Homo sapiens: one gene and its partners. The protein of the gene in region 7 purifies or fractionates together with the protein of the main gene of each other region. This does not show direct contact. Each region holds a gene or a part of one and is shown on either strand. Other genes may lie near its edges. The genes, in order: AKT2, UPK3BL1, ABHD6, BMPR1A, GJA1, PPP1R15B and FSHR.

Region 1 (3,500 bases), on a different chromosome or scaffold from region 7:
GTCTCGAACTCCTGACCTCAAGTGATCCTCCACCTTGGCCTCCCAAAGTGCTGGGATTACAGGCGTGAGCCATCGCACCTGGCCTGTTTTTATTTTTTATTTTTGTTTTTTAAAAACTTTTTAAGAGATGGGTCTTGCTTTGTTACCTAGGCTGGTCTTGAACGCTTCGGCTCAAGCACTTGGTCCACCTTGGCCTCCCAAAATGCTGGGATTACAGGTGTGAGCCACAGTGCTTAGCCTCTAGTTAACTGTTCTTAAACCAGGCTCCCTTCTGCTGGGACCTACTTCTTGTCCACCAGCTTCTCTCCTCTACATCCCTGGGCTGCCAGGACCTCTGTCCCTGCCATGCAGACTCCCTGCTCCCAGTGGACTGTCCCCTCCAGGGAGTCCTGCGGGCCAGCTCTTGCCTTGCAGTGTCTTCAGCTCCTTTGGCTAATGAATGCTGCTTCTTACTCTTGGTTTAACTTTACAAAACATTGGTAACTTATAAACTTGAGCTTGTCATTTGTTCCGAAGAATTCACAGGAGCACTCTCTCTCCCTCATTCAAGGCTCAGGGTGGTGGCTCATTTTCAAGGGGCTGTGAAAAGAGAGGGTCACTCCTTTTTGATCATTTCCCTGCTGCCTGGCTTCAAATGGCCCTCAGGCCAGGTCACTTTAGGGAAATTGGTGATCGCTCTTGGTATTCCACTTTTTTTTTTTTTTTGAGACGGAGTCTCGCACTGTCACCAGGCTGGAGTGCAGTGGTGCGATCTCTGCTCACTGCACCCTCCGCCTCCCGGGTTCAAGCAATTCTCCTGCCTCAGCCTCCTGAGTAGCTGGGATTAGGCGAATGCCACCCCTGACTAATTTTTGTATTTTTAGTAGAGACGGGGTTTCACCATGTTGGCCAGGCTGGTCTCGAACTCCTGACCTTGTGATCCATCCGCCTCAGCCTCCCAAAGTGCTGGGATTATAGGCATGAGCCACTGCGCCTGGCGTGGAATTTCACTCAGGTCCCTTCAGCTCTCTCTGGTTCTGACAGATCTTGCCCAAATTCCCATGGTTATGTGGTCATTTGCTTGCCTGTTGCTGGGGGTGGCTGGGAGGTGGCACTCAGCTGTTCGACTCTGAGGCCCAGGACTCCTGGCTGCTGGGACTCACGTGTGTCCCTGCACAGGGAGGAGTGGATGCGGGCCATCCAGATGGTCGCCAACAGCCTCAAGCAGCGGGCCCCAGGCGAGGACCCCATGGACTACAAGTGTGGCTCCCCCAGTGACTCCTCCACGACTGAGGAGATGGAAGTGGCGGTCAGCAAGGCACGGGCTAAAGTGGTAAGTGCTGGGAGCAGGGGTGGGGCTGCCAGCCTGCGGTGCCCCCACCCCCAGTGCTGGCCTGCTCTCCTTGGTTTCCATAACACAGTTCAGGGGGCTCAGCTGAGAGACAAGGCTGCCCTGCAGGGTGGGGTGATTTCAGGTGGCAGGTGCCCTAGGGTGTGCTCCATGCCCGTAGGGGAGGGAGCAACCTTGGGTGGACCCACTGCAGGTTCGTCCTGGGAGTTGGTGAAGACCTGGCTACCCCCACGTCAGAGCCCAGCCCTCCCAAGGCCCTGTGCCTGCAGAGCCTGGTCTGAAGGCCGCTTCAGAACACACAGTTGCTGCCCAGAGCCTCCCTTCCTGCTCCAGCCTAAGCCGTTTGGCAACAGTGTCTTTTGGTTTTCCTCTTTCTTTTGTTAAAATTTCCTCCCACGGGCCATGAGCCAGGCGCTGACTGCCCCCACTCTCCCTGTCCCTGGCAGACCATGAATGACTTCGACTATCTCAAACTCCTTGGCAAGGGAACCTTTGGCAAAGTCATCCTGGTGCGGGAGAAGGCCACTGGCCGCTACTACGCCATGAAGATCCTGCGGAAGGAAGTCATCATTGCCAAGGTGCGTGCCCCGGGAATTGCGCTCGCGAGCCTCTGTGGGGGCTGCGGTCTGGAGCCTGACCCTGAGGCCTGGACGCTTACCCGCGCTTTCTGCTGCTGTGGGCTTATTTCCCCCACAAATTCCCCCTAGTCAGAAAAGGGGGAGCCTGAGGCCCAGAGAGGAGCAGCAGGCCTTGCTGCTGAGTCCCCACCTCCACCCTATGTTAGGGGCTGGGGGTGCCTGTGGAGAGAGAGAGCCTCGGGGCCCCACCCAGCAGGTACTGTCAAGGGAGGCTGGGGCCTGTTGGGGAGGACGTCGCTGTTGGGGAGTCCCGGGCTTTGCTCAGGGTATCCCAGGTGGAGGCCGGGCCAGGAGTGGAATTCTACTTTTTCCCTTATTTGAATTTTTTGTAGTGGAAGATTCCAAAGACATTCAAAAATTTAAAAAGAAAATAAATATTACGGACCCCCATGTAGCCATTGTCCAGTTTAACCAGTTATCAGCGTTTAGCCAGCCTTGTTTCCTTAGCTCTGCCTGTCCCTCTTGTTCTGGAATACTTTAAGGCCTGTCCTAGACAACACGTCACTTCACTCATCCATACTTGAACATGTGTCCTGACAGATGAAGACTGTAAAGAATATAATCATGTGGTGCTGCCATCAGAGCCAACCAAATTAGCTGTTCATTCCTGATGTGACGATTGGGCCTAAGGCAGCCTTCCTCAGCCTCAGCACTGTTAACGTTTTGGGACAGATGATTCTGCGCTGTCGGGGCAGCCCTGTGCATTCTAGGGTTTCAGCAGCACCCCTGGCTTCTACCCACTGAAGCCAATACTAGCTCCCCAAGTTGTGACAATCAAAAATGACTTTTGGGTTGGGCGCCACAGCTCACGCCTGTAATTCCAGCACTTTAGAAGGCTGAGGTGGGAGGATCGCTTGAGCCCAGGAGTTCGAGACCAGCCTGGGCAACAAAGCAAGACCCTGTCTCTGTAAAAATAAAAATAAATTAGCTGGGCATAGTGGCGTGCACCTGTAGTCCCAGCTGCTCAGGAGGCTGAAGTGGGAGGATCAGTGGAGCCTCAGAGGTTGAGGCTGTAGTGACCCATGTTCACACCACTGCACTCCAGCCTGGGCGACAGAGCCAGACCCCCAGCTAAAAAAAAAAAGGGAAAAAAAAAAAAAAGACTTCAGACATTCTCAGGTGTCCCCTGGGGATAAACTTGCCCCAGAGAGAGCCTGTGTTCACGTTGCTGCAGGTGGCTCCAGATTTTTGGAACCACTCCTGGTGGTTCTGCTGTACAGTCAGGTACCAAATTAGAACCTGAATTAGAGTCACCCAAAGGGCTTGTGAGACAGTGCTGGGCCCACCCCGAGTTTCTGACTCAGTGGGCCTGGGGGTAGGTCCCAGGAATTTGCATTGCTGCCAGTTCCCAGGCGGTGCTGAGGTGCTGTGTGGGGACCACACCAAGAAGCACTGTTTTTCCTTCTTTGGGCAAGAATGCTTTCTAGGTGGGACTTCCCACAGCCTGTGGTGGCACCTCGGGGCTCTCGTGATGTCTGTTTGTCTCCCTTGCAGGGACGTCACAGGTGTCTTGTCCCTAGCAGCCTGGTCCT
Region 2 (4,256 bases), on a different chromosome or scaffold from region 7:
GAGGTGGTCACAGGTCTCGCTCCACCTGCCCTGAGCCCCATCTCATCTTTTTTTTTTTTTTTTTTTTTTGAGGGGGAGTTTCACTCTTGTTGCCCAGGCTGGAATGCAGTGGTGCGATCTCGGCTCATTGCAACCTCTGCCTCCTGGGTTCAAGTGGTTCTCCTGCCTCAGCCTCCTGCGTAGCTGGAGTTACAAGAACAAGCCACCACGTCCAGCTAATTTTGTATTTTTAGTAGAGATGGGGTTTCGCCGTGTTGGCCAGGCTGGTCTCGAACTCCTGACCTCAGGTGATCCACCCACCTCGGCCTCTCAAAATGCTGGGATTACAGGCGTGAGCCACCATGCCTGGACTTCCATCTGGTAATTTTCTGTCTCGAGGAGGAACTACCCTGCCCTGACAGAGGCTGGGGATGAAGGAGGAAGAGACAGCCGGTCCCCTGGATAAAGAGGTGAGGGGGTGTGAAGTCTGGGAGCCCCCCTCCCAGGGCCAGGCTACAGGGGGACAGCAGGGCTATACCAGGAGTGCCACAGAGATGCATTTGGGTGTGATCTAATCCCCAGTCCTGCCCTGACCTCCTGGGTGCTCTTAGCCAAGCCCTCTTCCCTGTGTGTGCTAGAAAGTGAGGGTCACTCCCTTCCACACAAGGGAGTGAATTGAGGGTGGGGATCTGAGCTCTCTGAGCAGCAAAGCTGGACACAGGCCAAATTGCCAATCCTGAGTCCCTCTGTCATGTGGACCTGGGAAGCTTGTCCTCATCCTCCATCCTTCCCCAGGGTGGGGCCTGAGAATCTGAGAACCTTGAGCCTGGGAGGTCAAGGCCACAGTGAGCTATGATCGCACCACTGCACTCCAGCCTGGGCGAAAGAGTGAGACCCTGCCCCCCCCAAAAAAAAATAATAATAAATAAAAGAGACTCCAGGGAGTTTGCTTGAGCGGCACTCCCTATGAACCAAAAACAGACACCAACTCCTCCTAGGTTGGTTTTTTGTTTTTTGTTTTTTGTTTTTTTTTTTTGAGGCAGGGTCCCACTCTGTCATCCAGGCTGGAGTGCAGTGGTGCCATCTTGGCTCACTGCAGCCTCAACCTCCCAGGCTCGAGTGATCCTCCCACCTCAGGTCCTAAAGGAAGAGTCGCTACATTGGGGACTGTTTGGACAAGGAGATCCACGGGGTAGACTTAGCGGGATTGTCCCTGGGGCAGCCTGGATCCTGAGGCTGCCCCGCCTCCTTCCTCAGCCCCTCCCTGGTCAGGCGCTCCTGGTGGGTGGGGGGGGTAGTCCAGGCTTGTCTTGCAACTGTATGTTCTCTTCAGACCCCTCCCTGGCGATGCCAGATTCACTGGGCTGGCAGATTCTGCCCCCAAACCTGTCCAACCAGTTGTTTGAGAGGAGGGGGTAGCTGGGAGGGGCAGCAGGAGATGCCAGGAACAGCTTCCCCTAGCACAGCACAGACTACAGACAGGGGAGCCTCTGGGGCTGCAGACACTGCAGACGGACGGACAGACAGATGGACAACAGCTGGAGGCTTGGCCCGGCCATAGGGCTCTCTGCGGGACAGTCCCAGCTGCTAGTGTCGCTGTTGCTGCTACTGACCCGTGTCCAGCCTGGGACAGACGTGGGTGAGTAAGGGTGGGGATTGGCACAGGGGTACCCGCTGCATCTCAGGCTGCAGGACAAACCCAAGACCTCACTTTGTTTCCAAATTCTCACACATGGCTCCTGCCTCCTTCCTTTCCCTGAGGAGAGGTTTCCAGATGTCCAGGACAATGCATGTCCCCAGGAAGCTCTGGTAAGCCCAGCCTGGGCAACATAACAAGACCCCTTTTTTCAAAAAGATTTTTTTTTTTAAGATTTTTGTTTTTAATTAGCTGGGTGTGGTGGAGTGCACCTGTAATCCCAGCTACTTGGGAGACTGAGGCGGGAGGATGGCTTGAGCCCATGCAGTGAACTATGAATGCGCCACTGCACTCCAGCCTGGGCCAAACAGCAAGACCCTGTCTCAAAAAAGAAAAGAAAAGAAAAACTGGACAGGCTGAGAGATACAGTCCTACAATCTCTGCCCCCAACCCCAATCTCTGACTGCTCCGCTTCTCTTTTTCTTTTTCTTTTTCTTTTTTTTCTTTCTTTTTTTTTTTTTTTCGAGACAGAGTCTCCCACTGTCACCCAGGCTGGAGTACAGTGGCGCGATCTCAGCTCACCACAACCTCCGCCTCTCGGGTTCAAGCAATTCTCCTGCCTCAGCCTCCTGAGTAGCTGAGATTACAGCCGTGCGCCACTATGTCTGGCTAATTTTTGTATTTTTAGTAGAAACAGGGTTTCACCATATTGGCCAGTCTGGTCTCGAACTCCTGACCTCGTGATATGCCCGCCTTAGTCTCCCAAAGTGCTGGGATTACAGACGTGAGCCACCGCGCCCGGCCTCCACTTCTCTTTCTAAACATTACGTGCCTCCTGCACGCAGAGTGCCCTGGGCTTCAGAGATAGGACTGAGAGCTGTAAGAAAGGAATCGTGACAATCCTTCCCCAAGGAAGACTCTAGCCTGAACCTTTGGAGTTGAGTTGAATTCAACGTAAATGAATGAAGTTGAACTGAACTGAACTGAACAGGGGCAGCTGCTGGAGACTCACATAGAAACCCACTCCATCGTTCTGCTTCTCCTAGACCAGTATTTGGGGTTGGGGAGGTCTGAGCTCTCCAACCAGCAAGGCTGGACACAGGCCAAGTTGCCAATCCTGAGTCCCCTTTGGGGTACAGACCTGGGAAGCTTGTCCTCGTCCCCCACCCTTCCCCAGAGAGATGAGGTGGGAGTCTGAGAGGGGGACCTGGTCCTGAAGGCGAAGATGCCTCGGGGCCATGTTGGGAGGCGGCAGAGAACCAGGCAGGTTGAAGAGGACGTTCTAGACTCACTCGGAACCAAGCTCTGGCTCCAGAGCCCCCGGACCCTCTGGGCAGTCTGTGTCCCAGCCTGGGGTCTCAGCCAAGAGGACCTTCCTGTGCCATCCCCCCGACCCCTGCCAAGCCACGCATCCTCTCATCAAGCAAAACAACCTAGACCATGTGGGTGGAGCTGGAGGGACTTAAGTTGGAGGTCACTGGGCATGTCAGGAACAGAGTTCAGCCTAGGGTCAGGCTGCCCCCAAATTCCAGTTCCATCCCAACATGGCCCGGCCCAGGAGAACTGTGCCTACCGCCAGGGTGGGACCTCCCATGCCACCATTGTCCTAGACCTCCCACAGTGCCCACCCCCAGTAGGCTCCTAAGAGAGGGGCCAGGGGCTGGACTCAGGCCTCCCACCCATGCCCATGGGGCATAGAGTTGCCGGGAAAGCTTCCTGGTTCATACCGGACCTGACCTCCCAGGAAGTGCCCGTAACTTGGGGCTCCCATGTTAAGTCTGGATCTGGGCGGGGGGAGACCAGAGCTGTTGGGGCTTGGTTGCCCCATTTGGACTCTCCTCTCTGCCCTCCCCTTCCAGCTGCCCCAGAGCACATCAGCTATGTGCCCCAGCTCTCAAACGACACCTTGGCGGGGAGGCTCACCCTGTCCACCTTCACGCTGGAGCAGCCTCTAGGCCAGTTCAGCAGCCACAACATCTCTGACTTGGATACCATCTGGCTGGTGGTGGCCCTCAGCAACGGTGGGTGCTGCTGGGGCCAGGCTTCGGTTTTCCCTATGTGAAATGGGCCTGCGGGCCTAAGGGCAGTAGCGGGTGTGTTGCAGGGAGATGCAGGGAGCAGGTGCTGCAGGGGATGGGGCCGGGGAGGGCTGTCAGGCTTGGTAAGGTGAGGGTGGGATCCTGCTGTGTGACCTGTCTGACCATGGTGCCACCCTTAGCCACCCAGAGCTTCACGGCCCCACGGACAAACCAGGACATCCCTGCTCCTGCCAACTTCTCCCAGAGGGGCTACTATCTCACACTGAGGGCCAACCGGGTGCTGTACCAGACCAGAGGCCAGCTCCATGTCCTCCGCGTCGGCAATGATACCCACTGCCAACCAACAAAAATTGGCTGCAACCATCCCCTACCAGGACCCGGCCCCTACAGGTGAGCAGCTCTGCCAGGCCCTGGCTCCTGCCCGCATGCACCCAAGCCGGAGCCTGGGGCAGCTCCTACGAGGCTCACCAGGGCCCCAGCAGGATGCCTGGGTCCCCTGCTCCTGCTTGGCCAAAGGGAAGAGGAAGCAGCAGGCAGGGGCTAGGGAGGCCTTCATGAATTACATGAATTATCCTTCTTCTCTTTTTTTTTTTTTTCCTTTT
Region 3 (3,500 bases), on a different chromosome or scaffold from region 7:
ACAGAGCCCAGGCTGCCTGACTCCAGAACCCAAGCTGTGATGTTTGGAAGTCCTTGCATATTTACTGCCTCCTTTTTATGACTCATATCTTCTACTTCCTCTGTATGATTCAACTAGAATCCAGCCATGAATTGAACATTTAATGACTTTTACTGAAACTTAACTAAATTGACCTTTAAAATCCTTCTGCCACTCTGAAAGCTAATCATTTTCGATATGTTGAGGACATTGAAATCGAAGAGAAGACACCAAAGGGTCTTCTCCTCTCTTTTTTCAAGTAGCATATCTGAAATAATTTGATCTTATAATAATAAGTTTGAGAATTGAAGGAACAGCATCTATGGAAGGTTTTTAGATTTTAAATCACTTACAGGAAGTAAAATCTAACTGGCTTTTTCAAGTATAGGTTCATTTGCTCAGAGAAAAAATTGACATCCGAATTTCAACTGGAAATTTAAAATTAAGTTTGTATGTGAAAACTAAAAAGTAGAAATAAATTCAGGATTATATCCTACCAAGAGTTTTAAAATAAACTTTCTAAAAATTTTGAAATAATTTTTAATTTACAGAAAAATTGCAGAGATATTATAGAGCGCCCCATATAACCTATACTCAGTTTCCCCATTAATAGCTCACATTACCACAGTAAATTTTTTCACAACTAAGAAACCAACATTAGTATATTACTGTTAACTAAATTCCAGGCTTTATTTGGATTTCATTTAGTTTTTCAACTCATGTCCTTTTTCTGTTCTGGGATCCAGTCCAGGATGTACCACATGACATCTAACCTAGGTTTAGTTTTAAAGAGAGGGGAAATAGATAATGTCATCTGCTTCATGGCATCGTGAAAGCCATACATCATACCCATGTTAGATTTAAAGGGTTTGCTGGACATAGATTTGCAAAGCGTGGGTTTCTGCATCACGACCAATATTATTGATGCTACTGCCTTTCATTATAAAATCTAGCTCTTTTCTAGATTTTGCTGGGTGAGGTAGCTCACACCTGTAATCCCAACACTTTGGGAGGCTAAGAGAGGAGGATTGCTTGAGGCCAGGAGTTCAAGACCAGCCTAAGGGAGACCCCATCTCTGCAAAAATATAAAATTAAAAAAAAATCTAACATTCACACATATGTTTATTGCAGCACTATTTACGATAGCAAAGACTTGGAACTAACCCAAATGCCCACCAATGATAAACTGGATAAAGAAAATGTGGCACATATACACCATGGAATACTATGCAGCCATAAAAAAGAATGATTTCATGTCCTTTGCAAGGACATGGATGAAGCTGGAAGCATCATTCTCAGCAAACTAACACAGGAACAGAAAACCAAACACCGCATGTTCTCACTCATAAGTGCGAGTTGAACAGTGAGAAGACATGGACACAGAAAGGGGAACATCACACACTGGGGCCTGTCAGAGGGTGGAGGTCACAGGGAGGGAGAGCATTAGGACAAATGCCGAATGCATGAGGGACTTAAAACCTAGATGACGGGTTGATAGGTGCAGCAAACCACCGTGGCACATGTATACCTATGTAACAAACCTGCACGTTCTGCCCATGTATCCCAGAACTTAAAGTAAAAAAAGAAAAAAAAATCTAATTATTTGGCTAAGCTAAATGCCTAGAAATTTGCTCCATGCTGGAAGTGAAAATTAGTTTTGCCCTCTTGCATACATAGCATCAGCTTCTGTGGACTCTCGTGTCGTGCCCTGAGGTGATGGGAGATAATGAGCAATCTCAATTTTGCTCTCCTAGAGGAAGAGCAACTGTGGAGAAGGCAGCAGGGTTGCTGCCCTAAAGCAAGGGACAGCTGGGAAGACTCCCAGTCCCCCTGTGTTTTATCATTGACCCCAAATAAGAGAGTACCACGTGGGTCCAGGCCAAGGGAAGGAGTGTCATTCATGCCAGCCCTATGTTTTCTTCCGGTCATGTATTTCCTCACATTTCCTGTCAACACTCAGATATGCTTAGGCAAGTTGTCTTCTAGGCTAACCCTCCTTAAATTCTATCATACATATGAATCCCCTGGCAACTTGTAAGAAGGCAAATTCTGGTTCAAGAGGCTCAGGGAGGAGCAGCGTCTGCATTTCTTGTGGGCTTTTGATGCTCCTGGTCCATGGACTACAGTGTGAGTGACCAGTCCCTGAAATATGTGGAAGGATTTTTTTGTGTGTTTCTCAGTGTGGTTTTGATTTGAGCAAGGATGGCAGTACCAACAAAAAAGAAATCTACTCATGAAATAAACCTGAAATATATTAACTCTGGGCTGCTGTCAGAAGTTCCCTATATAAAATGGGATTGGTAAGAAGGTGGATGTATCATCAAGCCATTTGGGTTTGAATCCCACAGGCCTGCAGTACTCAACTGACAATCAATTTGTACAACGGCTCAAAGAACTGCAGGGCTCTGCCGCCGTGGAGAAGATTCCCTTGATCCCGTCTACCCCAGAAGAGATGAGTGAAATGCTTCAGCTCTGCTCCTATGTCCGCTTCAAGGTGCCCCAGCAGGTAACGTGGTTGCAGCAGCGACACAACTACCCTCCCCAGAGGCCCGGGGGCGAGTACCAGCTTCCTGCACGTATTCCCTCCTTCACCTACTCATTGACTACTTCTTGTCCTCTTCTGCATATATTCAGCAAGTGTCTCTGCAGTGCCTGCAACACGCTGGGCACTGTGCTGGTACAGTGATCAATAAAGACAAGAAGGTCCCTGGGCAGACACAGTCCAGTGGGGGAGGCAGACAATAACAAGTAAACAATGAACTACCAGTGGTCATGAGTTTTATAGCAGAAATGAAGATGGTGTAGTGATTGAATACGGGGAGGCAGGGGTGGCTTTGATAAGCCTCTTCTAGGGACAGCATATGCAGAGGTGGAAAAACATACATATTCAAGACAAAGGAAGCCAGGGTAGCTGGAGCCCCAAGAATAAGAGAATGGTGAAGATGGAGTTAGAAAGGGAGGCAGGGGCTAAATCAGAGATACTCAATTGAAAAAAAAAAAATCTCAGGACCCCTTATACTCTTTTTTTTTTTTTTTTCCAGACAGAGTCTCACTCTGTCACCTAGGCTGGAGTGCAGTAGCATGATCTCGGCTCACTGCAACCTCTGCCTCCCAGGTTCAAGCGATTCTTCTGCCTCAGCCTCCTGAGTAGCTGGGATTATAGGTGTGCGCCACCACGCCTGGCTAATTTTTCATTTTTAGTAGAGATGGGGTTTCACCATGTTGGTCAGGCTGGTCTCGAACTCCTGACCCCGTGATCCGTCCACCTCAGCCTCCCAAAGTGCTGGGATTACAGGCTTGAGCCACCTCACCTGGCTAGGACCCCTTATCCTCTTTTTTATTTTTTAAATATACTTTAAGTTCTAGGGTGCATGTGCACAGATTGCAGGTTTCATACATAAGTATGCATGTGCCATGTTGGTTTGCTGCACCCATCAACTCACCATTCACGTTAGGTATTTCTCCTAATGCTATCCTTCCCC
Region 4 (3,500 bases), on a different chromosome or scaffold from region 7:
CTCCTGACCTCGTGATCCGCCCACCTCGGCCTCCCAAAGTGCTGGGATTACAGGCATGAGCCACTGCGCCCGGCCAGAAGTATTCGGTAAAGTGAGCAGTTTTTGCAGCTTTTTAAAAATTTTAAAGGCAATACATCTATTGTGGGTAATTTGGGAAGTATAAAAAGCCATAAAGAAGCAGCGGAATGATTAAGTTTCAGCTTCTAATTTTTTATAAATAATGTCTGATACTGGTTTTACTACTGAGTACCTATTCAATCACGGATGCCACACTAACCCAATCCGAATCTTCGTTTCTTTATCTTAAAAAATAGAAGGAACATGGTGAACTTTAAGATAATTTTTCTGCTTAAAAAAAGAAAAAGAAAGAAAATATCTTGACTTGCAGCACAGTTAGCTGCCGAAATTGAAGGTCATATAATGCTTTTGGTCCTAATGACATCACTGGACTTCTGACTTTTGGCTGAAGAATCACGCCAGCCTTGGCAGTCCTTGCAAGTACCAAAGGGAGTATGGCTTATGCCTGCGGTGCCCTTCCCGTATCCTGCTTTCTTACCTCCTTTTTTGAGCATTAATTTTTTTTTCTTTAGCCTTTGGGTAAAGTATCAAAATGTTGAGAAGATAGACTCTCAATTTTGAAGGTGAGAAATCTGTAGGAGACTTGGATAGTTGTTTTTTTTTTTTTTTTTTTGAGACGGAGTCTCGCTCTGTCGCCCAGGCTGGAGTGCAGTGGCGCATGTTGGCTCACTGCAAGCTCTGCCTCCCGGGTTCACGCCATTCTCCTGCCTCAGCCTCCTGAGTAGCTGGGACCACAGGAGCCCGCCACCACGCCTAGCTAATTTTTTCTATTTTTTAGTAGAGACAGGGTTTCACCGTGTTAGCCAGGATGGTCTCAATCTCCTGACCTCGTGATCCTCCCGCCTCAGCCTCCCAAAGTGCTGGGATTACAGGCGTGAGCCACCACATCTGGCTGACTTGGATAGTTTTGATACTGTTTTATGTATATTAAGATTTGTAGGTAGTTTTCTTACTAGTAATTAAAATGCTTTGTAATGTATTTCAAGAGTATAGGGTCTTGAGTGTTTTAAATTTGTATATAAGAATGTTTTAGATTCCTGGCTAAAAGAAGCTCTTGTTAGAAAATATTAAAGTAAAGGCTGTTAAATTTTGGTGAGGCTCTTAATGTCTGCATTTTTCAAGAATCATTTAAAAATGTCATGAAATAAAAATATTTCAGTGGTAACTGTTCAGAAGTATCTTAAATGTATACCAAATCAATGAAATATAATCGCTGGGTGACAGATTATTCTTCCTTCATTTTATAATCTTTTATTTAATAAAAATGTGGGGGAAAAATTGCATGTTGAAGTTGTACGTGTATATTTTAGCAAAAACTGTTAATCTTTCTGAAGTACTGCTTTGGTCATCATCCCTATTTGTTAAATATTTTTCCCTGTTTTCTTATTTGCTTACAATAGAAAATCCAGAATATCTTGGACTGGTCTCCTGCTCTGGCCAAGTCAGCCTTTTCTGCTTTGCTTCCTTTCCTACTATTTTATCAGCCTAAGTCACGTAAATATCCGATTCAGGTTTGGGTTCAGAATCCTTAGACCTCTACTGTCCACTACAATAGATAGCCACTACCACATGTGGCTGTTGAAGACTTGAACTGTGGCTAGTCTAAGTGTGAATTACGTACCAGATTTTGAAGATAGTACCAAAAGATGTAAAATATCTCATTATGCTTTTAAAATATTGGTTATATAGTGAGATGATACTGTTAGGGATACATTGGATTAAAGAAATATATTAAAACTGATTTTGGCCGGGCATGGTGGCTCATGCCTGTAATCCCAGCACTGTGGGAGGATTGCTTGAGCCCAGCAGCTTGAGACCAGCCTGGGTAACGTGGTGAGACCTTGTCTCAGTTAAAAAAACAAAACTGATTTCACAGGATTCTTTTTACTTTTTAAATGTGGCAACTAGAAAGTTTAAAATTACACGTCATATTGGACAGTACTGCCTTTGACTTTCCTTTCCCTGGTTCTTTGCCCATCAGAATGCTTTAAAATCTAGTATAAATCCTTGGCCAGGTGCTGTGGCTCACGCCTGTAATCCCAGCACTTTGGGAGGCCGAGGCGGGAGGATCACGAGGTCAGGAACTCGAGACCAGCCTGACCAACATGGTGAAACCCCATCTCCACTAAAAATACAAAAATTAGCCGGGTGTGGTGGCACGCCTGTAATCCCAGGTACTCAGGAGGCTAAGACAGGAGAATCACTTGAACCTGGGAGGTGGAGGTTGCAGTGAGCCGAGATTGCACCATTGCACTCCAGCCTGGGCGACAGAGTAAGACTCTGTCTCAAAAAAAAAAAAAAAAAAAAAAGAATATTCCTCTCTCTCCTATGAAGCCCTCCTCAGTGGTCCAAGCCTCATAGTTGGCTCTTTGCTGCATCATTATTTGAAGATAATCTTTTGGTATATTAGATTTCTTTACTACAAACCTTCTCAGAACTTTTAATATGCTAATACACATGGTGAAACTCTAGTATAGTTTCCCTAACTACGTATTACCATAGAACTGTGTGTTTTCTGTTAACAGAAGTTACACATATTTGTGGTTGAAATTTCAAACAATACAGAAATGAAGTAATGAAAGTCTTCTGTAATCATGCTTCACCTGTGCCCCAAGATTGCCACTGTTGAAAGTATAGAGCTAGAAAAAATTTTCTTTTCTGTTGCCTTCTTTCTTTTTTTCTGTCCCCATTTCCTAAAATGGGGTCATACGATACATCCTTATCTTTAAATTTATTTTCACTGAATATATAGGGGGATTCTTTTTATGTCAGTAAATTTCAATTTCCTCATTCTTTTTTTTTTTTTTGAGGGAAGGTCTTGTTCTGTTGCCCAGGCTGCAGTGGTGCTGTGGTGCAAACAGCTCACTGCAGCATCCAACTCCTGGGCTCAAGCAATCCTCCCATCTCAGCCTCCTGAATAGCTGGGACCAGAGGTGCATGCTACCATGCCCAGCTAATTAAAAAATTTTTGTGTGTGTGGAGGTGGGATCTCACCATGATGCCTAGGCTGGTCTCGAACTCCTGGGCTAAAGTGATCCTCCCACCTAGGCCTCCCAAAGTGCTGAGATTACAGGTGTGAGGTGTTGTGCGCAGCCTTAATCATCTCATTCTTTATAGTAGTTAAGCAGTTATTCCATTTTCTGATTATACCTTAATTTTACTTACCAGTTTCGTGTTAATGAATAATTAGATTATTTCCATTTTTTTCTTTTGCATTGCAAATATGCTGTGGTGTTTGTACATATCCTTTGAGACTGTTTTTATTTTATGAAATGAATTCTTAGAAATGCATTTACTATAAGAGAAGCCGTGCAGATTGGATGGAAAGTGCCAAGCCACCCTGCAAAATCTTCGTAACCATTCATATTCCAGCCAACAGTATTTGAATATGTTCTCTCCTCCCAACATAATCATATCAGTCT
Region 5 (3,500 bases), on a different chromosome or scaffold from region 7:
TTATTTGAAGAGATGTGTGGGAGCTTATCCGCACACACCAGTTCAACTCTGGAGAGAAAAAGTAATTATCTAGTGTTTATTATTAATGTAATATTCTGTATGGATAATTCAAGTTTTAAAAAATCTCCAGAGCATCTCTTCCATGGGAGATTAATGTATATATTTTTTAAATTCTTAGCATAATTGTCTAAACCTCCATCTAAAGTCACCTTTTAACTATGTATGTACAGATTGTCTTTTACCTATTTTCAAACTGTGGTTAGCTCTTTTTTTTTAATACATCAGTGGCTTATACAATTTCATAAATTTCACATTCCAATTTCCCTATGCTTTTAAAATAATATTTTAAGAAAAATATATGTTTATCGTCAGCTGGGCATGATGGCTCATGCCTGTAATCCTAGCCCTTTGAGAGGCTGAGGTGGGAGGATCGCTTGGGGCCAGGAGTTTAAAACCAGCCTGAGCAACATAGCAAGACCCCACCTCTATAAAAAAAAATTTTAAAAAGAAAATGTATGTTTGTCAATCATTTCTTAGTTGCTGTTTTGCTAAAGAAAAGATGAAAAATTTAAAACCAAATGAGCTATATCTAAAGGTCGTCTAAAGAGTAAGAACCAAACTTTACTGAGCTGTTACTAAGAGCATCACATGCATGAGTTATTTATTAAATTCTCATTGAAAAAAATAGACTATCTTAATCAATACACTTGTGAGGGCCCTAAGGGTGTCTTTATATGATTATAAAATAACAAGGCTATTCACTAAAAATAGTCAATTTGGAGGTGGAAGTAAGAGTAGGGGCAGAGGAAACGCCAAGGACTGATAGAAATATATTAAGTTACATCACAATTGAAGAACATGGCTTTTAGCCTCAGCTTCTGACTTGGGATTTTCTCTCTGGTAGCCCTAAATTGATCTTGAGAAACTTGTTTTGGGGGAGAATTGAGTAGTAGCTGTTGAACTAGGGAGAGGATTGTCTTTTATGGGATGCACCATCCTCTCTTTGGATGGAGTTCCTCACACCTCAATTCCCATCTCATCTCATTAAGTGGATGCTAATGTAAGTTCAGTGATGAGGAGGGGTAAGAGCTGGGGAAGGAAGGCTTGTTGGTGTTTTTATGTTGTCCTCCCCTCTGCCCCCAAAATAAGCAGTTCACAACATCAAATACCTACACAAATGTGCAATTATTTATAAATATATTTTTACATACAGTAAGTTTGATACACTATAGTTAGGCCATCTAGGTATAAATAAGGAAGTAAAGGTTGGGTATTATCTGATGAACTGGGAATCTTTTCCATGGTACTTGAATCTAATCACTTTAGTGCCTGCATAGACTCAGACTGTAAAGATGTTACATTAACCAGGGTTAATATCAACTGCTGCTCTTCCCCTTCAGAGCCCTAGCCTTCCCCGATATTTATCATTCTTGAAATAAACACGATTTTAAACAGGCTATTTCTTCTTGTAATAGTGTCCTTGTCTACAATAAAATTGTGTGGTGCAATCGGAGTTAGAACATCGTAGAACTAGGGGACAACCACACAGTTGTGTTTTTTCCTTTTTTTTTTTGTTTTGTGTTTTAAATCTTAACCTGCAACAACCTAACAGTGAACTGAATGTACAAGCATGATACCTGATGCAGTTCTACAAGAATCCTAACCCTCATTAGGATCTCATTTAACAAATTCAGGAAGCTCTTTGTTAAAAAGCCTTTTTTCTTTTTTCTTTTAAGCCTGTCAAATTTAGCAGTGGGGGTTGCAAAGAGCCTTTTTTCTTAATTTAGCTCTTTTGCCTGCTCAGGAATCATTTGAAGCATGTTGTTTCAACAAACAGTTCTCTGTTTCAGCAATTGTCACTTGAAAATTTAACAGTATGAGAATGAGATGATGACAATAGTTTTTTACTGTGAAGTTTCCTTTTTAATTAATTTGAAACTTTAGAAATTTGAGATATAACTACAATTAAGAGAATCCCAAAGAGACAGAAAAAAACAAACTTTTTTTTTTTTTTTGCACAGTATCTTTCTATTTTTTGTGGAAGCCCCATTTAATTCATTTAACATGTAGCTATACCCCAATTAATTAATTCTTTTCTTTTCTTTTCTTTTTTTGAGACGGAGTTTCACTCTATCACCCGGGTTGGAGTGCAGTGGTGTGATCTCTGCTCACTGCAGCCTCCGCCTCCCGGGTTCAAGCAATTCTCCTGCCTCAGCCTCCAGAGTAGCTGGGATTACAGGCACCCGCCACCACGCCTGGCTACTTTTTTGTTGTTGTTGTTGTTGTTGTTGTTGTTGTTTGTCGTTTTTTTCTTTGAGACGGAGTCTCGCTCTGTCGCCCAGGCTGGAGTGCAGTGGCGCGATCCCGGCTCACTGCAAGCTCCGCCTCCCGGGTTCACGCCATTCTCCTGCCTCAGCCTCCCGAGTAGCTGGGACTACAGGTGCCCGCCACCACGCCCGGCTAATTTTTTTGTATTTTTTTTATTTTTAGTAGAGACGGGGTTTCACTGTGTTAGCCAGGATGGTCTCTATCTCCTAACCTCGTGATCCGCCCGCCTCGGCCTCCCAAAGTGCTGGGACTACAGGCTTAAGCCACCGCACCCGGTCTACTTTTTTGTGTTTTTAGTAGAGATGGGATTTCACTATGTTGGCCAGGCTGATCTCAAACTCTTGACCTCAGATGATCCTCCCACCTCGGCCTCCCAAAGTGCTGGAATTACAGGTGTGAGCCACATCTCTTACTCTTTCAAGCACTGGGGATACAGCAGTGAACAAAGCAAACTCCCTCGTATTGTTCACATTCCAGTTAAGGAAGACAAATAATAAATCCTTCTCATGGAAGGAGGTACATAGTAATCAGGCAAATATTTACTATATCAAGTAGAGAGAAAGTCTATTAAAATAATAATTTTTTAAAAACCAGGGCAAAGGGAATAGGAAATGACAGGACTGGGGAAAGGATGTTGCTATTTCATATTTGGTGGTCAGGAAAGTTGGCTGATGAGGTGAGACCTGCAACAAGTGAGGACGTGAGCTGCGTGGATGGAGCAGAGCTCATCAAACCAAGCTGATTGTTGGTTTGTTTTCTCAAGATTGACTGATTACTCGGAGTATAGGTTGGCAAGTAGGGTGACCAGGCTAATGACATGAAACCTAGCAAACTGATGATGGCTGAGATCAAGCTAAGGGTGGCTGTTTTAAGTGCGGAGGAATAGACAACTGAGTTCACTCAATGACATTTACTGGAGGGGCAGAGGTTATTATAAAAGTGAAAGAAAACATTACAAGGGTTTGCATTTGAGTTTTTGGGCATGAATATTTTTGGGTGTTAGTACATTAGACACACACATGATTTCCCTTTCCTCCCAAAAAATCCATTAAATGATTTTATCGGGAACTTCCATAGACATTTCCTTATGTAGGTTTAGACTCTGATTTTATTCTTTCAGATATTAAAGTCCTTCACCTTCTCTTTTCTTTCAATCATAAAAAGATGCTGGA
Region 6 (2,969 bases), on a different chromosome or scaffold from region 7:
GTGCTTTTAAATGTCCTTTGCCTGCATGAGGTGGAAAGGGGACCTTTTTGAGTTGTCATTTTGCACTTTCAAAACTTATTTTCTTGGAAAACAATATTTATAGGGCTTAAAGCCCATTTTCATTTCTAATCTAAATTATGTGTGCCTATCTGAAAACTTTGGGCTCTTTCTTGTTTCTTTCCCAAAATTCAGAAGTTAATGGGCTTTTATGTTTTTCTATATTTTTTTTATTTCAATGATTTGGCCTGTCTATGTTAGGCTAAAAAATAACCTTGTGTATGCTACCAACTTAAAGTGCATTATTTTGTGTCACTTTTTTTTTTCTTGTAAAAATGACTTGGATTGAAAATATGTGGTAGCCTTTTTATTTCTACATTAAGTTCTACCTAGGATATTTCCAAGGACTGCCACAAAACCCATATGTGCAGTACTTTACTACTTTGGGAAAGCTGCATCTTTCTACCACATTTTAACATCTAATATATTTAATTTCTTTGAAGAGGGTTCTGTGTACGTTATTGTAGTTCCCAGTTTAATATAGTTCTTTGTATCTCTTAACAGGTTGAAGTTATTGCAAAACACTCTGGAAAGTAATAATTACATCATAATCATTTATTTTTTAAACTTAAAAGCCTAGAAATTTCCTAGAAAGAAAATAGGAGACATCTCAGAGCAATTTGGTTTTGGTGTATATGTTCTCAACAGAAAACCAGTGTTAATGAATATCATGCCTCAGCACTGTCACTTTTAAAACCTGTCAGGATCCCACTGTAAAATTGGAAATGGGCAGTTCTGAATTTTCACGTTTGAAATGTAAAATATAAACTTCAGTCAATATCCAGGTTTATTGTGTCCTACTATTTAATAATGAGAGAAGTAATGGCAAGGCCTTTACTTTCAGGAAAGGATAGAAGTATAGATTAATGACTGGAAAGTTTTAATATATTTAGCCCAAAGGTTACTTTGAATTGAAGTCTTTGCATTGACTGTTTGTGTTTGGTTTATTTGTTTAGCTTTACAAGGTACACATAAGTTAGGTTGAGGGGTTGTTAACCCTTCCGTGGTCTGCTTTCATTCCGTGTGCTTCCTGTCACAGGTAATGGAAAACATAAGTAGAATAGGTGACCTCTTAGTTTTGAACTTATTTAAGTGTGGGGATGAATTTTTCATCAGAAGTGCTTACAGGGTTACTACCTCAGTTTACAATCTACCTGGTCATTATTTTATTTCTATCCAGTTCTAAGAACTGCCTCCACTGTTTATATATTCATAATTAAACACATTGAGAATGCAACACTATAAAAGCTGGTCAAATTTTTGCAGAGCCCTTATTCTGTGTGTTTTTTGTTTTTTTCTTTTTTTTTTGAGACAGAGTCTCGTTCGGTCCCCCAGCTTGGAGTGCAGTGGCGCGATCTCGGCTCACTGCAACCTCCGCCTCCTGGGTTCACGCGATTCTCCTGCCTCAGCCTCCCGAGTAGCTGGGATTACAGGCACACACCACCACGCCCGGCTAATTTTTTGTGTCTTTTTAGTAGAGACGGGGTTTCGCTATGTTGGCCAGACTGGTCTTGAACTGCTGACCTCGTGATCCGCCCGCCTCGGCCTCTCAAAGTGCTGGGATTCTGTGTGTTTTGTGCACCTCCACTTTAGGTAATCATAGGGAGCACATTTACAGGATGGTCTAATAACATGAAAACAGGCTAGTTTCAAGCAACAGCAATGTCGGTTGGAAAGCAGGCGTCATTTGCCTTGAAAAAAGCCTTTTGACAACATACAGGCATTCTTTTAAAACCAGGCTGAAACATTTTATTTCCGAGACTTAACGTTGTGTTTCCTGTTTCTTAAACCTAGCACCTCTGTGTATTTGAAAATAATGAGACATCTTTCATTGGATTTTGGAAAATTGTTCCCCATGGGATTCTAACCTCACTACCAAATGAGTGAAAGCTTGATTAAGAGTTCTTCCATATACTAGCCTCCTTGGAAGAAGTGATCAGAAGGTGATAAGAAGGACAGAAAGGACTATTTTAAAGTTGGACTGAAGGAGAAAAAAGCAAAATTCTTGTTTCATCCCAATTCTAGTTAGAACAAAGTTAAACCCCCGTAATCTTAAAGAGAAAATCTTTGGAGGTTTTAATTAAACATTTTATACATTTAAAGTCTTGTTAATGGTGCTTTAAGTGTCAATGTAGCATGTAAAAGGCTTTGTACAGACAGGTAAAAGTTCCATTTCTGAGTGATGAAATGTAACACTTCTTCATCTTTAACTTGAAATCAAAACTATCAGATTTTATTTTTGTATAATTTAAGGAAGGTAAAGTTAGGGGACTAGAAGACTCTAAATTGGCTTCTACAGATCAATAATTTAAATGTAACTAGTTGGGATTTTATAGTTAAAATTATATTTGTGTATATAACATAACTAATCTGTAAATTGTAATAAATATATTTGCAATTATTAAATGTTAAGTGATATTTTGGTTCAACTTTATATTATATGTATCATAGTATTTTACAATGGTTTTGGAATTACTAAGCAGGATTAGTATAATTGCAAACAACATTTTAGTAATAGAAGAACTTGGTTCTTGCAGTATTATGAGAGGCCCTTCTAAGAAACTGAAGATTTGATTCTGAAATTGGCCCTAGCTTTTCAGTTTTGCTGCAAAGAAAATTAAACTGGGTATTCACAGAAGCAATAACATTCAGATGCTGGGCTTAGCCTAGTGCTTAAGTAGCAGGGAAATCTCTGTTTTGTGCATTATTATTATTATTATTTTTTGAGACGGAGCCTCTGTCACCCAGGCTGCATTGAAGTGGCACGATCTCAGCTCACTGCAACCTCCACCTTCCGGTTTCAAGCGATTCTCCTGCCTCAGCCTCCCGAGTAGCTGGGATCACAGGCACCTGCCACCATGCCCGGCTAAATTTTGTATTTTTAGTAGAGATGGGGTTTCATCATGTTGGCC
Region 7 (3,500 bases):
GCCCAACGGCTATCTGGGCCTTTAATATGCATTGTGTAGTCTACATCCTCCAAATGTATTGCTCTGGGTTAGCAAAGATAGGGAGGCCAGAAGTGAGGTCCTTGATTTTACCTGCAGGCCAGTCAATATTAGTTTGGAGGAAACTGAAAGACCCTTCAATAAGAGTATTGTTCACAAAACCAGCATGTAGCAAAATCAAAAAGTGGCTCATTTTTTCACTATTTAGCGCTTTAATTACTGCCCCCCACACACATAAACAACACCCCCTGTATTCCAGCATCCTCTCCTCTTCTTTCTAGAATTGCTATGCTGCCCTGGGCACAAAGAAACTATCTAACAAACACATTCATATTAAAGAGTTAATGACAGGCTGTGTTTGCCTTTTCCCAAGGTATTTGTATTTTGAAAAAGGAAGAGAAAAGGTAGCATATAATGGCAACTATTCCCAATAGTGAAATTGTAAGAATATGGACAGATCCAAAAGGAGGAGATGGGGAAGGGGTGTAAGGAGCTAAGCAGAGAGGAAGGAGATAAGCAGGGAGGGAGGAGAGAAAGAGGAAAATATGAAAATCTTTCAGAATTTCTCAAATTGTTCCAAGCTGTTTACTACACTACTTGTACAGCTGTTACTTCCACATTTACTTCTCCATATTAGATCAGACCTAACAGGGAAGGTTGACGGGGGAAATGAGGAATACAAACAGAAAATGAGAGTTTCCTCATCCTTTCATTCAGGAAAAGAAAAATCAATGATAAAGCCATTCTGAGACCCAAGGAGAACAGGCAGAAGGAAACTAGCTGTAAGAAGGGGATTGACATGAGGAGAAGGCCCAACTAAGATGAACAGAGAAGTTAGACAAGAGGTGAAAGGTCAGCTTAAGTGTTTGTTACATTAGGGTGAAATTATTTAAGAAAACCTTCAGAAGAAAAAAGTAAGCCATGCACAGTGGCCAGTGGCTCTAATCCAGTACTTTCGGAAGCCAAGGCAGGCAGATCACTTAAGCACAGGGTTTGACACCAGCCTGGGCAACATGGTGAAACCCTGACTTTACAAAAAATACAAAAATTAGCTGGGTATGGTGGTGCACACCTGCAGTCCCAGCTATTCTGGAGGCTGAGGTGGCAGGATCACTGGAGCCTGGGAGGTTGAGGCTACAGTGAGTTGTGATGGCACCACTGCACTCCAGCCTGGGTGACAGAGCAAGAGAACCTGTCTTAAAAAAAAAAAAAAAAAAAAAAAAAGACACTGAATGTCTGCAATTCCATTTGTAAGAACATACTAAAGATAAATTAGAGACAATTTTTTCTCCAAACTTTGAGCTGATCATCTTCTAAACAACAACTAGTTATATTAATACATTACCTCAGCTGAAGACCGCATCATGCCAGTTAAACTAAATTTTGGAAGGTTACATGAGTAGAGCTGATGTAAGTATCTTATTTGTCTGTACTTTCTTCTAGTGACATTCAAGATAACATAAACATCCACACAATTGAAAGAAATTCTTTCGTGGGGCTGAGCTTTGAAAGTGTGATTCTGTAAGTAAGGGGGAAAAAATCCAACAGAGTAACATTTGATTTTTCATTTAGTGATCTCTTTCTCATAATTGGATGCTCCTTTTTTGTTTGGGTAACTTTGGCATTTCTCCACTTAAATCACTCTCCAGTTCTGCGTTCCTCTCTCATCTTTACATTTCAGAATCACAATGTGGAGTCATGTTAATAATTTATGATTCTGGGGTGTGATTCAAGTATTTAAAATTGCTGTTTGAATGATGATCTCCTGTGATACAACATCTGTTCCAAAGGAAAGAATAACTCATGCATCAATAAAGCTAGTTATTGCCTGGCAAGGCTTTTGTTGCCCAAAGAAAAAGATCAGGAAGGAGGCCCAATCAGGAAGATATGGCGATTCCCTCATAACCATGCCAAGCAGTTCCTGTTCAGGCCCATGCTGAGCATAGGATGACTTCTCATTTTCTTGAAACAATCACATTTTTTAATGAGCTTGAGTTACTCTCTCTGACTTTTGGGAAATCTCTTAAAAGCATTCTGTGTTGTTAGTGAAAGACCTTCTACTCTTTTATGCCAGTAGCCCCTGTAGCAGTTTATCCACTCACAAGTATGGCCAAGAAATAGGACACTATGGGCTATCTAAGTATGCCTGGGATCCATGAAAGTTAGATGCACAGAATGACATTTGGGGACCCAGCAATTGCACTTACATCTGTAAGATATGAAAAGCATTTTATCTATTTTACAAACTGTTGTGTTTTTAAAAAAATATACCAGTATGAGTTTTTAAAATATGCCTATATGTACAAAACATAAGTTCCAGTCCATAAAGAATTTTAGCCCCCTTCAGTTGTATGATTCAGAGACCAGGCTGTTGAAAGAAAAAAGAAATAGTAGACAGATTATAACACTTTGATGAGTAAAGCTAAGCACTGTATTTGATGTAAATTAATCACAGATAACAATGGAAAAAGTTTGAAAACAGATTAGCATAGAAATTGAATGTATGGAGGGAACAATAAAATTAAATCAAAGGAATGTATTCAAAATACATAGATATTAGGACAAAAGCTATAGGTGAGTGATACTGAATCATTTCACATAAGCTCATGATATTTGAAGTGAAGGGGTGTGTGTGTGTGTGTGTGTGTGTGTGTGTGTGTTGAGATGAGGTGATGGGGTGCAGAAAGGGTAAGAAAGAGAAAGCAAAAGGAATAAACTAAAACGCGAGCAGAATGAATGATATACAAAGAAAAAAAGAGCAATCATTCTAAGAGGAAAGAAGGAATGATTTAATCTCACTAGTCTGTGATGCGAGGGTTAAAGGAAGAGTTAAACAAGGGAAAGGAAGCTAAGAAAAAGAGGTTGTTTTTAAAATGGGCTTTTAAAGATGAGCAGTAGTTAGCTAGGGAATTGGCAAAGGGCGTGCAGAGGGAACAGAATAATCAAGACCAGGAAGAGCACCTGCCTTTTATAAAAATAAAAATAATCAGGTGGGCGTGGTGGCTCATGCCTGTAATCCAAGCACTTTGGGAGACAGAGGCAGGCAGATCACGAGGTCAGGAGATTGAGGCAATCCTGTCTAATACAGTGAAACCCGTCTCTACTAAAAATATATAAAAAAAAAAAATTAGCTGGGCATGGTGGCAGGCATCTGTAATCCCCTCTACTCAGGAGGGTGAGGCAGGGGAATCGCTTGAACCCGGGAGGCAGAGTTTGCAGTGAGCCAAGATTGCACCACTGCACTCCAGCCTGGGCAACAGAGTGAGACTCCATCTCAAAAAGTAATAATAATAAAATAAAATAAATAAAAATAATAATACAAAGAGCTTGTGGAAAATAGTGAATACATGAGTCATATTGGCCTGCTGGATTGTGAAACAAACACAACAGTAAAAGGATTCCTGGGTTACTTCACAGAGGGAGATTGGTGATAAATGTAAACATTTATACCTAGATGTTTATGTTTATTTGGATCTTTCTTG

What was found.
Region 1: the proteins of FSHR (region 7) and AKT2 purify together in Homo sapiens (affinity purification with western blotting, with the first as the bait; one study listed by BioGRID). This does not show direct contact.
Region 2: the proteins of FSHR (region 7) and UPK3BL1 purify together in Homo sapiens (affinity purification with mass spectrometry; 2 studies listed by BioGRID and IntAct, with this or other methods). This does not show direct contact.
Region 3: the proteins of FSHR (region 7) and ABHD6 purify together in Homo sapiens (affinity purification with mass spectrometry; one large-scale study listed by BioGRID and IntAct). This does not show direct contact.
Region 4: the proteins of FSHR (region 7) and BMPR1A purify together in Homo sapiens (affinity purification with mass spectrometry; 2 studies listed by BioGRID and IntAct, with this or other methods). This does not show direct contact.
Region 5: the proteins of FSHR (region 7) and GJA1 purify together in Homo sapiens (affinity purification with mass spectrometry; one large-scale study listed by BioGRID and IntAct). This does not show direct contact.
Region 6: the proteins of FSHR (region 7) and PPP1R15B purify together in Homo sapiens (affinity purification with mass spectrometry; one large-scale study listed by BioGRID and IntAct). This does not show direct contact.

Annotation. Positions count from the first base shown.
Region 1 is NC_000019.10:40,240,346-40,243,845, reverse strand, and holds part of AKT2 (RAC-beta serine/threonine-protein kinase), read left to right. Parts: intron 1-1,158; coding exon 1,159-1,312; intron 1,313-1,776; coding exon 1,777-1,908; intron 1,909-3,500. UniProt on the Homo sapiens protein: Serine/threonine kinase closely related to AKT1 and AKT3. All 3 enzymes, AKT1, AKT2 and AKT3, are collectively known as AKT kinase.
Region 2 is NC_000007.14:102,639,992-102,644,247, reverse strand, and holds the start of UPK3BL1 (uroplakin-3b-like protein 1 precursor), read left to right. Parts: upstream 1-1,456; 5' UTR 1,457-1,506; coding exon 1,507-1,618; intron 1,619-3,474; coding exon 3,475-3,636; intron 3,637-3,833; coding exon 3,834-4,044; intron 4,045-4,256.
Region 3 is NC_000003.12:58,272,292-58,275,791, forward strand, and holds part of ABHD6 (monoacylglycerol lipase ABHD6), read left to right. Parts: intron 1-2,366; coding exon 2,367-2,524; intron 2,525-3,500. UniProt on the Homo sapiens protein: Lipase that preferentially hydrolysis medium-chain saturated monoacylglycerols including 2-arachidonoylglycerol. Through 2-arachidonoylglycerol degradation may regulate endocannabinoid signaling pathways.
Region 4 is NC_000010.11:86,763,119-86,766,618, forward strand, and holds part of BMPR1A (bone morphogenetic protein receptor type-1A isoform 3 precursor), read left to right. Parts: intron 1-3,500. UniProt on the Homo sapiens protein: On ligand binding, forms a receptor complex consisting of two type II and two type I transmembrane serine/threonine kinases.
Region 5 is NC_000006.12:121,438,646-121,442,145, forward strand, and holds part of GJA1 (gap junction alpha-1 protein), read left to right. Parts: intron 1-3,500. UniProt on the Homo sapiens protein: Gap junction protein that acts as a regulator of bladder capacity. A gap junction consists of a cluster of closely packed pairs of transmembrane channels, the connexons, through which materials of low MW diffuse from one cell to a neighboring cell.
Region 6 is NC_000001.11:204,402,881-204,405,849, reverse strand, and holds the end of PPP1R15B (protein phosphatase 1 regulatory subunit 15B), read left to right. Parts: 3' UTR 1-2,469; downstream 2,470-2,969. UniProt on the Homo sapiens protein: Maintains low levels of EIF2S1 phosphorylation in unstressed cells by promoting its dephosphorylation by PP1.
Region 7 is NC_000002.12:48,987,016-48,990,515, reverse strand, and holds part of FSHR (follicle-stimulating hormone receptor isoform 1 precursor), read left to right. Parts: intron 1-1,461; coding exon 1,462-1,539; intron 1,540-3,500. UniProt on the Homo sapiens protein: G protein-coupled receptor for follitropin, the follicle-stimulating hormone. Through cAMP production activates the downstream PI3K-AKT and ERK1/ERK2 signaling pathways.